2 separate regions of the Homo sapiens genome follow, and region 2 is linked to region 1. A link means that fine-mapping ties the variant in region 1 to the expression of a gene that starts in the linked region. Tissue or cell type: whole blood. Region 1 holds a variant in brackets; the other region holds the start of a gene. All regions are shown on one strand. Distances are between the middles of the regions.

Evidence for each region. PIP is the estimated chance that this variant, and not a neighbour inherited with it, causes the effect.
Region 2: POLDIP3 starts here. The variant in region 1 is fine-mapped to the expression of POLDIP3 in whole blood (TOPMed, PIP 0.95).

Annotation. Positions count from the first base shown.
Region 1 is chr22:42,581,907-42,590,085 of GRCh38, reverse strand. POLDIP3 (DNA polymerase delta interacting protein 3) reads left to right here. Exons shown (of 9, transcript NM_032311.5): 8 at 2,514-2,580; 9 at 4,118-6,365. The coding sequence ends at 4,295. It also overlaps the pseudogene RRP7BP. Among named protein-coding and RNA genes, the nearest start is that of POLDIP3, 29 kb to the left of the region's middle. RefSeq lists a silencer at 8,103-8,179. The variant G/C (reference allele first, on the strand shown) is at 3,520.
Region 2 is chr22:42,611,345-42,619,487 of GRCh38, reverse strand. It overlaps POLDIP3 (DNA polymerase delta interacting protein 3), which reads left to right and starts at 4,605. Exons shown (of 9, transcript NM_032311.5): 1 at 4,605-4,689. The coding sequence starts at 4,631. It overlaps CYB5R3 (cytochrome b5 reductase 3), which reads left to right. Exons shown (of 9, transcript NM_000398.7): 9 at 1-1,648. It overlaps RNU12 (RNA, U12 small nuclear), which reads right to left and starts at 4,244; the gene lies at 4,095-4,244. LOC124905127 (a long non-coding RNA gene) reads left to right here and starts at 4,709. Exons shown (of 2, transcript XR_007068118.1): 1 at 4,709-7,575. RefSeq lists enhancers at 3,618-3,747, 4,398-4,457, 4,538-4,717, 4,210-4,753, 4,754-5,297 and 1 more and silencers at 4,188-4,247, 4,788-5,117.

The sequences.
Region 1 (8,179 bases):
CTCCTTTGACCCATTGGTTATTTAGGATTGTTTCAATTTCCATATATTCATGAATTTTCCAGATTTTCTTTTCTTCTATGAGTGTTTAAGGAAAATATGTATTTTCTTGTTGTTAGGTGGAATGTTCTGTACATGTCTATTATGTCTTGTTGCTTTGTAATGTTTAAGTGCGTTTCATTGTTGATCTGCTTGGTTCTATCTAGTATTGAAAGTGAAATACTGAGGTTCTGTTTTTTTTTTTTGATACGGAGTCTCCCTCTGTCACCCAGGCTGGAGTGCAGTGGCATGATCTCAGCTCACTGCAACCTCTGCCTCCCGGGTTCAAGCAATTCTCCTGCCTCAGCCTCCCAAGTAGCTGGGATTACAGGTGCCCACTGTCACGCCCAGCTAATATTTGTATTTTTCGTAGAGATGGGGTTTCACTGTGTCAGCCAGGATGGTCTTGATTTCCTGACCTCATGTTGGCCAGGCTGGTTTTGAAGTCCTGACCTCAAGTGATCCGTCCACCTGGGCTTCCCAAAGTGCTGGGATTAGAGGTGTGAGCCACTGCACCCGGCGAGATCTTTATTACTGTTGGTCTGTTCCTTTCACTTCTGTGTATTTTTATTTTATATATTTGAGGTTCTGTTGTTACTTGCATATATGTTTGATTGTTTTCTTCCTGATGAATTGACCCTTCAGTCAAATTTAAATCTCTCTTTACCTCTAGTCACTTTTTTTGTTGTTTTAAAGTATATTTCATTTTATATTACTAATAGCTAATAAGCTAATAAGTAAAAGACCAGCTTTCTTAGGGTTGCTATTTGAGTGATATATCTTTGTTCACTTTTTTTTTTTTTTTTTGAGACGGAGTCTCGCTCTGTCGCCCAGGCTGGAATGCAGTGGCATGATCTTGGCTCACTGCAACGTCTTCCTCCCAGGTTCAAGCGATTTTTGTGCCTCAGCCTCCTGAGTGGCTGAGACTACAGGTGTGCACCACCACACTCAGCTAATTTTTAGTATTTTTAGTAGAAATGGGGTTTCTGCCATGTTGGCCAGGCTGCTGTCAAACTCCTGGCTTCAAGTGATCTGCCCATCTCAGCCTTGCAAAGTGCTGGGATTACAGGCATGAGCCACCAAGCCTGGCCCACTCTTACTTTCAATCTTTTTCTCTCATCAACTGTAAAAATGTGTTTCCTAGGCTGGGCACAATGGCTCACTCCTGTAATCCGCCAGGCGGATCACCTGATTGGGAGTTCGAGACCAGCTTGACCAATATGAGGAAACCCCATCTCTACTAAAAATACAAAATTAGCCAGGTGTGGTGGTACATGCCTGTAATCCCAGTTACTCCGGAGGCTGAGGCAGGATAATCGCTTGAACCCAGGAGGCGGAGGTTGCCGTGAGCCGAGATCGCACCATTGCCCTCCAGCCTGGGCAATAAGAGCGAAACTCCATCTCAAAAAAAAAAAAAAAGAAAGAAAGAAAAATGTGTCACCTATAGAGAGTGTATAGTTAGATCTTACTGGTTTTTTTTTTATTTGAATTCAATCTGACAATCTGTCTTTGGATTGGATTATTTAATCCATTCATATTTAATATTGATAATTAGGTTTATTTCTTCCATTTTACTTTTTTTTTTTTTTTTTTGAGGTGGAGTCTCGCTCTGTTGCCCAGGCTGGAGTGCAGTGGCATGTGGTCTCTGCTCACTGCAAGCTCTACCTCCCAGGTTCACGCCATTCTCCTGCTTCAGCCTCCTGAGTAGCTGGGACTACAGGCGCCCGCCACCACACCCAGCTAATTTTTTGTATTTTTAGCAGGGACGGGGTTTCACCATGTTAGCCAGGATGGTCTCGATCTCCTGACTTCGTGATCCACCCGCCTCAGCCTCTCAAAGTGCTGGGATTACAGGCGTGAGCCACCGCGCCCGGCCCCATTTTACTTTTTTGTTCCTCTTCAGTGGCTTTTCTTTCACATTTTTTCCCCAATATTTTAATTCCTTTAATGATGTATTCACTAACTTAACTCGAGTAAGATATGGAAATGTTACTCCCACATGGCCCTGTTCCTTCTTCCTCTTTTTTGTGCTATTACCGTTACACATGTTATGCTTTGTATACAGTGGGAGTGTGGTCTTCCTAGTGCTTCATCCTTTGTAGACAGAGTAGAAGCCTGTACATAATGCTTTTGATCATCTTTTCACTGAATTTGATAGCATAAACCTTTTCCCTTACTACTTGGATGGCTTCACATTGAGTCTCGTTTCTCCCTCACTTCCCACTCATCTCTTCCTGTATGAAGCAAGGTTTGTGGCCACTTTGCCTCTTGGTGCTCCACTGCTGAGGTTTCCTCACGCCCTGGGATTTTCTTAGTGTCTGGCTTGACTGGAACCTAGCAGCCCCATCTCCATCTGTGGAGCCAGAACTGCCAGTGGTGGGTGCTTTGACCATTGATAATGGAGGTACAGCCCTTGTCCTCTTGTGTGAGGAGCCGAGGTCTCATAGCAGAGCCTTTTTCTTTCTTTGGTTTTTCAGGGCAGCCGATGAAGTGCAACCTTCACATGAATGGGAATGTTATCACCTCAGACCAGCCCATCCTGCTGTGAGTTCCAAAGGCGGGGTGCTGGGGAGAGGCAGCTCCGTCCATCTCTTTTTGTTCTAATGGGTAAACTGCCTGCATCACAGCTCCCCTTCATCCCCCCATTCCGTTTCCTCTGTTCTAATGGCAGCTGGCCGTTTCATATGCTTAAACTTGACCAAAATGGTTTGCTTTGTTATTTCCCCAGGGCTTGACCCTATAGGGACTAGCATTATGATCTCGTTCTCAGCTTTCTGATTTAGAAATATCTGAGTGGAAGTTGGAGGGGGAGGCTGCTTGGGTCTCCTAGCTGTGTGCATCATCCCGGGAACAGAGAACTCCACTGCATGATTGGCTCTGATGGAGACAGTGCCAGATGCTACCCCTTATTTTGTTCCCCAGTGAGGTTTTTTGTTTGTTTGTTTGTTTGTTTGTTTTTTGCTTTTTCAGTTATTTTGAGAGTCTCACTGTGTTGCCCAGGTTGGTTTCAAACTCCTGGGGTCAAGCAACCCTCTCCCCTCAGCCTCCTGAGGACCTGGGACTATAGGCGCACACCATCACGCCCAGCTGGATTTGGCTTTTAAGTACAGTGGGAAGCCATTGAAGGCTTTTGTTGCACACAGCTGAGTATACATGCCTGGCCCAGGACTGAGGGATGTTTTGAAGCCTGAGATGCATAAAATGTTGAGACTGTGAGGACTTCACCTTCTAGATAAGGAAGCAGATACCAGGGAGGAGGTTAGACTTGCCAGGGTGAGTGGGATAGTGTGGGGCAGGGCTGAAATAGACTTTGAGATTTAAAAAGACTAGGATTTGAACCCTGGGTAATGAATTATGTGATTTGGATAAGTTCTTAAACTGTGTTCAAGGAATAAGAAATATTTCTTAGGGTTTTGTAACCTAATAAGTTTGGGAACTACTGGGCTAAACAGAGTTACATCTGTTTCACTTTCGGGCTTCTCA[G/C]ATTGTGTAATATGCTAATGGATGTTACCATCCAGAAGGAACATGCAGTGTTTCCTAAACTTAAAACCACAATTAGCCAGGTGTGGTGGCATGCACCTATAGTCCCAGTTACTTGGGGGGCCGAGGTGGGAGGATCGCTTGAGCCTGGAAGATCGAGACTAGTGAGCCATCATCATGCCACTGCACTTCAGCCTGGGTGACAGAGTGAGATTCTGTCTCAAAAAAACCCCACAAAACCCTAGAACATACAGCACTGCCTGCGTCTCCATTTTCTCATCAGTAAATAAGAAAAACACAGCCTGGGCCACATAGCAAGACCTGGTCTCTACAAAAAATTTTAAAAATGAGCCAGGCATGGTGGTACACGCCTGTAGTCCTAGCTCCTTAGGAGGCTGTGGCAGGAGAACTGCTTGAGCCTAGGAGATGGAGGCTGATGTGAGCTGTGATTGAGTTTGCTGCGAGGTGGAATGAGATGAAGGGGTATGGAAAGTGTTACACCCAGTGCCTAGCTCATGACAGATGCCCAGTAAATGGTGGGTCCCCTCCCCATCTAAGGAAAAACTGACAAGAATTTTTGACTCTTCTCTGCTCTCCACAGGCGGCTGAGTGACAGCCCATCAATGAAAAAGGAGAGCGAGCTGCCTCGCAGGGTGAACTCTGCCTCCTCCTCCAACCCCCCTGCCGAAGTGGACCCTGACACCATCCTGAAGGCACTCTTCAAGTCCTCAGGGGCCTCTGTGACCACGCAGCCCACAGAATTCAAAATCAAGCTTTGAGCAGGGGAGTGAGGCAGCCAGAAGTGGGGGCAGAGGAGGGTGGCTCTGTTTCCCCAAGGCAAAGCTTATGACCAATGGGCCATCGGACTGGAGACCCCTGATTGTGGGAAGGGTTGCCAGGGATAAAGAGCTTCCTCACTGGATGGGACCCGCCTTTCTGTGTTGTGTTCTGCCCTGTGCTCTTCTCTCTACGTTAACGTTTCCTGTAGTATGTTTCTTCATCTCATCGCCAAGGTAGGCTTGTGTTTTTCAGTGTGTGCCTCCCCGAGCCTCAGCCCCAAGCTGATTTCTTATCTGGAAATGGTACACTGAATTCTCTGGGTGGCTTTCTTGTGGCCCCATGGGATGCAGCGTGGGGGCTGTCTGAAGGACCCTGCTTTTTCCAGGGGCCGAGGGGCTGCCTTTCCTTTGTGTGTATTAAGCTTTTCAAACAATGGAGGGGATGGAGAGCCCTGGTGTCCTGACGGGAGCCAGGTCGGCCTGAGAGCTGTGCCGCTCCTCTGTCTTGTCAGTGGAGGTGCCTGGGTGGGGAGCAGGTCTCAGGCCTCTTGTCCTCTCCCCAGTGGCTCCAGGCCTCACTAGTGGCAAGGGCAGGATGAGGCTGCACCGCTGGGAAGAGTCTATCTAAGCTCTTGGCTTGGAGTCCCGTGTCGTCTCCACCCAGAGGAAGTTCTCCAGAGTTCACCTTTCCCTTTTCCTTGAGTTGTGCTGAATGCCCCACCCCAGCTCTCTTTCCCTTCTGGGTGTCTTTGCTGGGAGGGGGCTGTGTTGTGAGCCCTCCCGGTTCTCACCTCGCCTGGCACTTAACCACACCCTGGTTTTGTGTAGCCGCCAGCTCTCTTCTGGTTGGGCCTTTGAAAGGCTCAGCCTCCCATTGTGCAGTGCTTGGGTTTGGAGCTTATTTGAATGGAAGAGGTCAGTTTGTTCCTGGCTCTCCATTTCTGGCCTCAGTTGTCTACAGGACAGTGGTCAGGGATGCCTGGAGGCATATATCCAGCTGCCACCAAGGGGCACTGTTTGTTCCCACTTATGTGAGTGACCCCATCCATCCATGACCAGAGGATTATTTTCCTGCCTTGGCAGAGGAGGAGGAGTCAAGGGAGCAGGGCAGCTCTACCAGGCAAGGTGTTTCCCCAGCATAGGCGCAGACAGTTGGGACGAAACTTCAGAGCCCAGGCAGTCCCTGAATGACCAGGCCAGTGTTGTCACTGAGTGGTCCCCTGCTGGTTGGGAGTGAAGAGAATCCAGGCTGGCAGAGCTGGAGCCAGTTGGGGAGCACGGTTCTGGGAGCTCTGCAAAATCAGTAGCAAGTGCTGGAAAAGGCACATGCCGAAGATACTCAAGAGCTCCCAAGATTTGCTTGAGGCTAGCCCAGTGAAAAAAACCAGAGACTCATGTTTCCAGGGGTCAGTCTGTCAGGCAGGAAGGACCCAGGATTTGAACCCAGCTTCAGTGTGCAGGCTCTGAGGCTGCCCAGGACGGGAAAGTCCAAGGAAGGGGCCTGGTGGTGCTCCACTTGCAGTTCTTTAAAGAATGCTGCTTTTTATTCTCCTAACCCTTTCAAGTGGGTGCAGACTTCTCGTTAGCAGCTGGAAGACATTCCTCCCACACTTTTCCCTTCCTGGCCCAAGAGAGCATCCAGAAGGCAGTAGGACCTGGTTTTTCAGGTACTGGGAGCCGGGGGCTCACTGCTTGCACTGTGCTTAGGGTAGGGATGGTAAATATCCTCCCTGCATGGCTTTATCCTCCCTCTCATCCCAAAGCAGGTATCTTCTGGTTGTCACAGAGTTTCATTGAGTCCAGCTGCAGCCACGTGGCCATCTGGAGCTGGTGCTATAGGTGACCATCTGGTACATTGAGGGGACCTGTTTGCCTCCTCCACTCTATAAGCAGTCATCTTGGGAGACCGGGAGGAGAAGGTGGTGGGCTAGTCCTGTGTCCTCCTCCACTTCCCATGCCTCTATGTTACCCATCTGTGTCTCCTGTGCAGAAGGAGAGGAAGGGGCATTAAGAGATGAAGGGTGATTATGTATTACTTATCCATTTCTGAATAAACATTTGTTATTCCTACCTTTGAGTTATCTTTTTTTTTTTTTTTTTTTTTTTTTTGAGACAAAGTCTCACTCTGTTGCCAAGGCTGGAGTGCAGTGGCACTATCTCAGCTCACTGCAACCTCCGCAGCCAGACTCAAGTAATCCTCCCACCTCAGCCTCCCAATTAGCTGGGACTGCAGGCGTGCATCACCATGTCTGGCTAATTTTTGTAGAGATGAGGTTTCACCATGTTGCACAAGCTGGTCTTGAAATCCTGACCTCAGGTGGTCTGCCTGCCTCGGCCTCCCAAAGTTGGAATTAACAGGCGTGAGCCACCACGCCCAGCCAAGGGTTTTAATCTTGCAGGGATTTCAACATTTGGGGTGGAACTTAATTATTTAAAAAATAGAGACAGATTCTTGCTATGATACCCAGGATGGTCTTGAACTCCTGGGCACAAGTGATCCTCCTGCTTCAGCCTCTCAAAGTGTTGGAGTTACAGGCATGAGCCACTGCTCCCCACCAGGGATGCAAATTACTTGATACTCCTCTCCAGAAGGTGGGGTCCTGTGCCCCTCCTGAACCCAAGTGTGCTCTGTTACTACTTTGACCAGATGTGACTCTGCCATTTCTGTGCCTAGGCTTTTAAAGATGGTCACTTCTCCATTTCCTGTGCCTGGAACATTCTCTGGGAGCCTTGACACCACATTTGAAGTTGCCTATTGGGGCCAGCATGGTGGCTCACGCCTGTAATCCCAGCACTTCAGAAGGCCGAGGCAGGCAGATCGCATGAAATCAGGAGTTTGAGACCAGCCTAACCAACGTGGTAAAACCCTGTCTCTACTAAAAATTACAAAAATTAGAGGGGCGCGGTGGTGGGCGCTTGTAATCCCAGCTATTCAGGAGGCTGAGGCAGGAGAATCACTTGAACCCGGGAGGCGGAGTTTGCAGTGAGGTGAAATCACGCCACTGCACTCCAGCCTGTGCAACAGAGCGAGGCTCTGTCTCAAAAGAAAAAAAATAGTTGACTGTCGGTTTGGCATGGTGGCTCATGCCTCTTGTCCCAGCACTTTGGGATGCTGAGGCAGGAAGATTACTGGAGCTCAGGAGTTCGAGACCAGCTTGGGCAATATAGTGAAGCCCTATCTTTACAAAAAACGAAAAATTAGCTCAGCTACTCAGGAGCCTGAAATGGAGGATCATTTGTGCCCAGGAGGCAGAGGTCGCAGTGAGCTGTGATCATGCCACTATACTCCATCCTGGGCAACACAGTGAGACGGCAGAAAAAAAAAAATAGTTGACTATTGAGTCTCATATCTGATTGCCCACCTGACATCTCCCCTGAGTGGCCTAATGGGCATCTCACCACGGCCCACAGAGAACTGATCTACTCGATTTTCCCTAAGCTGGCCCCTCTCCTGCAGTCTACCCATGTCAGTCAATGGCAACACCATCCTCTTAGTTGCTCAGACTGAAAAGCTAGCAGCCATCCTGGATTTCTCTCACACTGCCTATTCAACGTGTGAATGCATGAGTGGAAAGCTGAGTTCGCACTCGTGACTGGCCGGGGTCGACTCTGACATTCACTCCCACTTTGGCGCGCTGATTTGCCTCTGAGCGGATGAAGGTTGAGCCATGGCGGGCGGGGCCGGGGAGGCGGGCTTGGAGCGAGGGGGCGGGGCAGGCGCCACAAAAACGCGCTCGCGCCGGCGCCGAACCGCAACTCCCGGCGACCCCCGCGCTCCCGGGTGGCAAGATGGTGGCGCGCAGGACGAAGCTCGCGGCGCGGGACCCGGAGGACGGTATCCCGAGCCCACCGTGCTACGCAGGTGAGGGGATCCGGAACGCGAG
Region 2 (8,143 bases), 29 kb before region 1:
CCCACACACACTATAAGGCTGAGGGCTGCCAGCAGCCCCGTCTGCCCACCATTCCCGGCCGTGGACCATAGTCGGGATGTCAGCAGACACACATGGGCAGCCCAAAGCTGCAGGTGCCAGGGCCCACCCCAGCCTCGCCTGTCACCCCCACTCCCGCCTCAGGGCCAGGCCCAGGCCTCACCACCTGACGCTGCATGAGACATTGACACCAGAAAGCCCTCTTGGGGGCACTGCTCCCTACCCCAGGGCCCTGGCCAGCCGGGAGCTTGGCTCTCCTCTGGCTAGAGTGGGAAGAGGGGGCTGGCCATGGGGCCCTCCCAGAACCTCAGCATTTCCTTCCAGCCCATCCAAACACTGAGGCAGCCTTGGGGAACCCCGAGCTGGGGGGTTGGCAGCCCACTGCACCGCCTCAGGGTTTTGGGGTCCTGGGCTGGGGCCACCATCCCTGATGGCAGAACTCCCACAACCACATGTATTTATTCCTCTGTCCTAAACCGTCCCCTCCTTCCCTCACCCCCAGCACAGGGGGATTCTGAGCAGTGCCTCTTGTCTGAGGGACATATCAGTGACCTCGACGTTGCCTTTAGACTACAGTTGTGTTAGCCTCTTGCGTATTGGCTTTTTCAGAGTCATTTATGAGCAGAAAAAAAAAAAGTAAAACTTTGCTAATATTAACCCTTCTCTAGCTCCTCGAGGGTCTGTGACCTGCAACACAAGGGGTGGGGTCAGGAAAGGGCTGGGGAAGACCTAGCATTTTTTTTTTCTTTTTTTTTTTTTTTTGAGACGGAGTCTCCCTTTGTCACCCAGGCTGGAGTGGCATGATCTCAGCTCACTACAACCTCCACCTCTCGGGTTCAAGCGATTCTCCTGCCTCAGCCTCCCGAGTAGCTGGGACTAAAAGTGCCCACCACCACACCCAGCTAGTTTTTGTATTTTTTTTTTTTTTTTTTTGAGACGGAGTCTCGCTCTGTCGCCCAGGCTGGAGTGCAGTGGCGGGATCTCGGCTCACTGCAAGCTCCGCCTCCCGGGTTCACGCCATTCTCCTGCCTCAGCCTCCCAAGTAGCTGGGACTACAGGCGCCCGCCACTACGCCCGGCTAATTTTTTGTATTTTTAGTAGAGACGGGGTTTCACCGTTTTAGCCGGGATGGTCTCGATCTCCTGACCTCGTGATCCGCCCGCCTCGGCCTCCCAAAGTGCTGGGATTACAGGCGTGAGCCACTGCGCCCGGCTCCAGCATTTATTTCTGATGTATCTTTGTGGTAGAAAATTTGGAAAGTGCAGAGAAGTATACACAGGAAGAAAAATTCCCAACCCCCAGAGGCAAACCAGCTGAAACCACGCAACCCCAGTCACCCCAATGCACCGCGAGGCTGCTGCCTCCTGTCAGGGTCAGATGAGCCTCGAGGCTCAGGAAAGTCAGAGGATGCCATCTGCATGGTGGTAAATTACAGAGGTGATGAGGCAAGGTGGGTGTGGGGCTGTTCTTAAAACGGGGCAGCAGGAAGGCCCCAAGGAGATGGATTTGGGCTGGGACGGGAAGAGAGAGCTGGCCATGCTGGGGTGGGTGGGTGTTCAAATGGTGGAAACAGCAGACGCAAAGGCCCTGCCGTTGGAACCAGCTTGTGGAATAAACTTTCAGAAACAGATCGAAGAAGATAGGTGGCTGGAAGGGGCAGCAACGATGAGGCTGGAGAGGGAGGCGGGGCTAGGCTGGTGCTCCGGAGACTTGCTGGGTGGCCCTAGGAGCACAGTGAGGCCAGTGTGGCTGGAGGGGAGTGGGGAAGAAGAGGGGACGGGGCAGGTTCACAGGAAGGAGGGCCCAAGACCAACCTAGGGGACTAGGAGAGCCCTGTCTCCTCTCACTTCGCATTTTCCATTCTGTCTCTGGCCACCTCACTACCTACAGTGGCAGGAAAAGGAATCTCAGACCCAAAATGGCCTTCACACTGTGGCGGGGGACTGCTAGCAATGGACACGCGTTAGGTTTCATCCTCATTTCTGTCCCTGTCTGAGGCTGAAAGGCACAGGATTTGAACACAGGCCTGCCTGAGCCCACAAGAGGCTGCCTCCTGGGAAAGGGGACGTGGGAAAAGGGGATCAATTGGACCCGATTCCCACCCTCTCCAGGTCTGTTTCCCCATTCAGAAAATGGGAGAGGGCTCTAAGGCAGCGATTCTCCATACAGACTCGACACCTTTATTTATTATTTTTGGGACGGAGTCTCGCTCTGTCTCCCAGGCTGGAGTGCAGTGACATGATCTTGGCTCCCTGCAGCCTCTGCCTCCCAGGTTCAAGCGGTTCTATTGCCTCAGTCTCCGGAATACCTGGGGATTACAGGCGTGCACCACCACACCGGCTAATTTGTTTGTATTTTTAGTAGAGATGGGGTTTCACCATGTTGGTCAGACTGGTCTGAAACTCCTGACCTCAGGTGACCCACCCTCCTCGGCCTCCCAAAGTGCTGGGATCACAGGTGTGAGCCACCATGCCTGGCCAACACCTTTAAAATAACAGTTGTAACGGGCCCTTTACGCTGCAGAATTCACAGGCAGTATCACCTACCTATACGAAGAATTTTAAAAATCAACACAGCTCTAAATGAGTTGTAAAAGAACAAGAAAGGAGGCCGGGTGCTGTGTCTCATGCTTGTAATCCCAGCACTTTGGGAGGCCGAAGCAGGTGGATCACCTGAGGTCAGGAGTTCGAGACCAGCCTGGCCAACATTGTGAAACCCCCGTCTCTACTAAAAATACAAAAATTAGCCGGGCGTGGTGGCGTGCGCCTGTAATCCCAGCTACTCGGGTGGCTGAGACAGGAGAATCGCTTGAACCCGGGAGGCGGAGGCTGTGGTGAGCTGAGATTGTGCCACTGCACTCCAGCCTGGGCGACAGAGCGAGACACCGTCTCAAAAATAAAAATAAAATTGTCCTCCGCATCTGCCCTACACTGCCCAGCTGACCCCACTGGCCAGCCTGTCCTCCTCCCACCTCTTGCGCGTTCCTCCTGGCACGCCTGGAAGGGAGGAAAGGCTTAATGGTCCCGTTCTATGGGTGAGGAAAAGAGGTCTGGGAAGGAGCCCGGCGTGGTGGGGCGGGCCTGTAATCCCAGCTACTCAGGAGGCTGAGGCAGGAGGATTGCAGGATCGCTCTTACCCAGTTTCTTTCTTTCTTTCTTTTTTTTTTTTTTTTGAAACGGAGTCTTGCTCTGTCGCCTAGGCTGGAGTGCAATGGCGCGATCTCGGCTCACCGCAACCTCCGCCTCCCGAGTTCAAGCGATTCTTCTGCCTCAGGCTCCTGAGTAGGTGGGATTTCAGGCCGTGCCACCGCGCCCGGCTAATTTTTTTCTTTCTTTTTTTTTTTTTCAGTAGAGACGGGGTTTCTCCGTGTTGGCCAGGCTGGTCTCGACCTCCTGACTTCAGGTGATCCACCCGCCTCAGCCTCCCAAAGTGCTGAGATTACAGACATGAGCCACCGCTCCTGGCCTCTTACCCAGTTTCTGCACGGAGCTCCTGATGCCTGATGGCCAAGAGGACATAACCCCACCTGTTCTAAGGGCATGGAGTGTATTTTTAGAGTGATTGGACAAAATATGTGCCGAACACCTACGTCAGGTCTGGCGCATGCTGGAGGCTGGGGTTATATCAATGCAAAAGCCATTCCCTGTATTTAACACGTAAATGAATTAGTCTCTTTAACTCTCCCAACGCCCTATAAATTATTTGCTCCATTTTACATATTAAACGCTGTCACGAACTGAGCTGCTGTGTGAGGCCGGGGCCGGACTTATCTTTCTGAAGCACAGAGAAGCGGTTATACGCAGAAGTTTGGGAGAACTGGGTAAGGCCGCACACATGGAAATTGCCAGTTTCGTGGGTCCCAACGTCAATACTGTGGGCAACCTTAGACCGGCTCAAAGCGCAGCTGGGGACGGTGATGAAGTGCAGAGCGTCCACAGCCAGCGACAAGACTGCCAAGCAACTGGCAGCCTGAGTAACGGAGAAAACAACGAAAAAAACGCATTCACCACCTACCAACAAGAAACAAAAAACACGACCACCCCACAGTCAGTCTACTTTTTAGGCGTGAATAAGGTCGGGCAGATCGCAACTCCCAGGCATCCCGCAAAGTAGGCGGGTCACCTTGAGGGCGACCTTTACCCGCTCAAAAATTCGTCTCACATTAGCAGTGAGGATTCGGGCGTCACCCCGAATCGTTATTTTCCTTACTCATAAGTTTAAGGCATAAGGACGTTTTTAGTTTATTTCCTAGGTAATGAATTCTATTCTCATTAGGCGTATGATGACTATCGTAGTTGACTGTTGAGGTCATGATCCAGTTCCATTGAAGTTTGTCTCACTTGTTAATAATGTATTTTGTTGCTTTTCATTTAATTTTTTCCCTCGAGGAAAATAAATAATTCATAATGTGCCGAACTTCCGTATGCAGATGAGCAGCCAGCACCGCGAAGGCTCACGGGGAACGTCCCCGCCCCTTCCGGTTCTTGCCTGCTTTGAGCTGGCTGTCGCGAGAGTTGGTCCGCGGACGCCGGAAGTAGTTCGTCGCTCCCTAGCGGCCGAAGGGGCGGGCTCGCGGGGTCTCGACTGCTTTCGGCTTGCTCGGCGGAGCAAGATGGCGGACATCTCCCTGGACGAACTCATCAGGAAGCGCGGGGCGGCGGCGAAAGGACGGTGAGAGGCCTTTCCTTTCTTCGGGGTTTAGGGTCCTCGGCCTAGTGGAGCTCGAGGCGGGGGAGGTAGCGATCCGGGAGCGACGCGGAGGACCGGGTGCGCCCGCCCCCGACCACAGCCGCGCTCCTCATTGGCCGGCTGCCGCCGTCCCCGCCGTGGCCCCGACCGCCCGCCCACTGGCCGAGGCGCAGTCCCTCTGGCGGCCCTGGGAGGCCGACGGGGCCGCGGCGGGGACAGGGTGCCGCCTCGTGGACCTGAGGGGCTGCCCCCTGGGGCCCCCGCGTTCCGGGGTCCTGGGGTCTCGGCGGCGCAGCCTCCTTGCCTGTGTGGACTGGCATTTGGGCCCCGCTCCGTGATCTCGGCGCTGCCTGGTCTCCACCCATCTTAGAGTTGAGACAACCGAAGTTTAGTAGCGGGGAAGTGACTTGCTCCGACCGCCGAAGCTGAGGCGCAAGCCCAAATCCCCCTGCACGCGGCCCCTGTTAACACTCGCCTCTCTTTGTGCGGCGTTTTAAGTTTTCTGAGCCCTTTCATATACACGATGCCTCATTTAATCTTTTACAGTCCTGTTGTCTGCTAGCTATTCATGTTACCCACCTTTTACTGATGGGGAACTTGAGGCTGGAAGTGGTAGAGTGACTTGCCCGAGGCCACGGAGAACTGAGCGGCGGGCTGAGCGCGATTTAATTGCTGGCTGAGTTGGCCTCCTACATGGGCTTGAAAAACTGGTGTGTTGGGCAGGAGATTGGTTATTTCCTTAGGGAGAAGAAAGTGCTTGAGCTGGCTGAGGAGCCATGGAGGTGATTTGCAGTCATGTCTCCCAAACTTCCCCTAGACCCTTAAATGTTGTTAGTCATTTCAAGCCTTCGTGAGCTGAGTTCATCTGTATGAAGAAGTGAGAACTTTGCCCAATAGTTTCCCAACACACATTAAGTTTAAATGTCTTTGTAAATAGCCAGGATGTAAATATGTTAGATATTGTTTTCTCAGACATTTGTTCTCTCAGCAGATGTTTATTTTTATTTTTATGTTTTTTTTGAGACGGGGTGTTGCTCTGTCGCCCAGGCTGGAGTGCAGTGGTGCCATCTCGGCTCACTGCAACCTCCGCCTCCCCGGTTCCAGCGATTCTCCTGCCTCAGCCTCCCAAGTAGCAGGGACTACAGGTGTGCACCACCACGCCCGGCTAATTTTTGTATTTTTAGTAGAGATGGAAGTTTCACTGTGTTGGTCAGGCTGGTTTCGAACTCCTGACCTCAGGTGATCCTCCCGCCTCGGCCTCCTAAAGTGCTGGGATTACAGGCGTGAGCCACCGGCCCGGCCATTCCGCAGATGTTTATTAATACCACCCGTATGCCTGTGGTTAGGTTTTTCTCTTGATGTCTGAAATGTATCCCTCACCTCCTTCCCCATCCTGGACACTTGTATCAACTACAACTGCCACCACCACCTCATAATTCGCAGCCAGCACTTACCTGGCTTGTGGTTCGTAACGGGCACACATTAGTATTTGTTTCCTCAACTACTGACTGTGAAAGCTCTCTCAGATCTCCATCTAGTGACTGATGTGAAGCTGGTGCTGGCTCCTCTGGCCACTTCTAAGTCCATCCACGTTTTGTAGGTTCCTTTGGAAACGACAGAATGATCCACCCCAGGTTCTTCTCTCTCTGAGGTCACTCCGCCAGTTTCTGACTGCAGGTGGACTGCACTGTAGTCTATTTGATCTCTATGTTTTTGGTTTTAGTGTGTGCAGAGTTTTGTGTTGGGCAGTAGGTGGGGCTGCAGGAATGGGGGGTGGTTATGTGTGGATCCACAGGAACAGGGGCCTTGCAGCTGGATACACCTGGCACTTGCCACTGTTGGGTTCTGTTTCCCTGGCCAGGGGAGTTCTGAACTAGGCAGTTTCCTCACTTGGAATGGTGATTCCTGGTTGAGCGGGATTAAATGTGAGAAGGGTTTTTTTTGTTTGTTTTTTTGAGAGGGAGTCTCACTGTATTGCTCAGGCTGGAGTGCAGTGGCACAGCCTTGGCACACTGCAACCTCTGCCTCTTGGGTTTAAGTGATTCTCCTGTCTCAGCCTCCCAAGTAGCTGGGATTACAGGTGCCCGACACCACGACTGTCTAATTTTTGTATTTTTAGTAGAGATGGGGTTTTACCATGTTGGCCAGGCTGGTCTCGAACTCCTCACCTCAGGCCGAACCCGCTCGGCCTCCCAAAGTCCTGGGATTACAAGCATGAGACACTGCGCCGGGCCAGAAGGTATGTTTTAAAGTTTGTGCCATGTGGCAAGTGTTCAGCAAAGGCTGGTAATTATCTTGGACCTTTCCTTAAAGGCATAGAAGCACACAACGCCCCTGGAGCATAGGTGAGCACTGGGACTCTAGACGCAGACCACCAAGCTTCCAATCCCTGCTTCTCCCACTTTCCCTAGGACCGTCTGCAAGTTACTTAACCATTCCTTGCCTTTCTTTCCTTATGTATAAAACCTGAGTAATATCTACTTTATTAGGTTATTGTTAGGACTGAGTGAATTAATATACCTGAAGTGCATTGAAAAGTTCCTGACAACGGGTACTTAAGTGCTTGATAGACGTTAGCTTTCGTTATTGTCATTGAAGGCTTCTTAAAGTAAAGGAGTAACATGATTCAATTTTTAGCTTGAAAATATTTCTTTGCCATTGTATGGGGATTGGATTGGGGCAAAGAGTGCAGGCAGAGAGACTAGCATGGAAGAACCTGGAGTGCATGCTGAGTTTGAGTTAAATCTTCTGGAAACTCCGTTTTTATCTCACCTGCACAGCCAACAAAGAAAAACTAGATCCAGTGGTCCCTGTTAAGATAATGTGAAAGATCTGAACAAATTCAATGAACAGATGTCATTTCCTGCAGTAAGTTTATTTTTATTTTATTTCTTTATTTTTTTTGAGATGGAGTCTCACTCTGTTGCCCAGGCTGGAGTGCAATGGCATGATCTCAGCTCAGTGCAACCTCTGGCTTCCAGGTTCAAGCGATTCTCCTGCCTCAGCCTCCCAAGTAGCTGGGACCATAGGCATGCGCCACCACGCCTGGTTAATTTTTTTGTATTTTTAGTAGAGGTGGGGTTTCACCATGTTGGTCAGGCTGGTCTTGAATTCCTGACCTCAAACGATCCACCCGTCTCAGCCTCCCAAAGTGCCACCGTGCCTGGCCATACATGCTATTTTACATACTGCCTAGAAGAATCTGCGTACTTGGAACTTTGGTTTTAATGTTGCATGGATATTCCAGGAAGAATTTTGTTGTTTAAGAAAGCTTTTTTCCTCTTAGTAGAAATAGCCAAAGATCCAGCTTGTGGAAGTGTAAATAACCTCTTTCCCCACCACTCTGCTCACTTTGTTTCCTGTGATCCCAAGGATCACATTTGTGGAATGTGCTTGTTCTCAAAAGCAGCCATTCTGTTTTGTGTTCCTCACACCT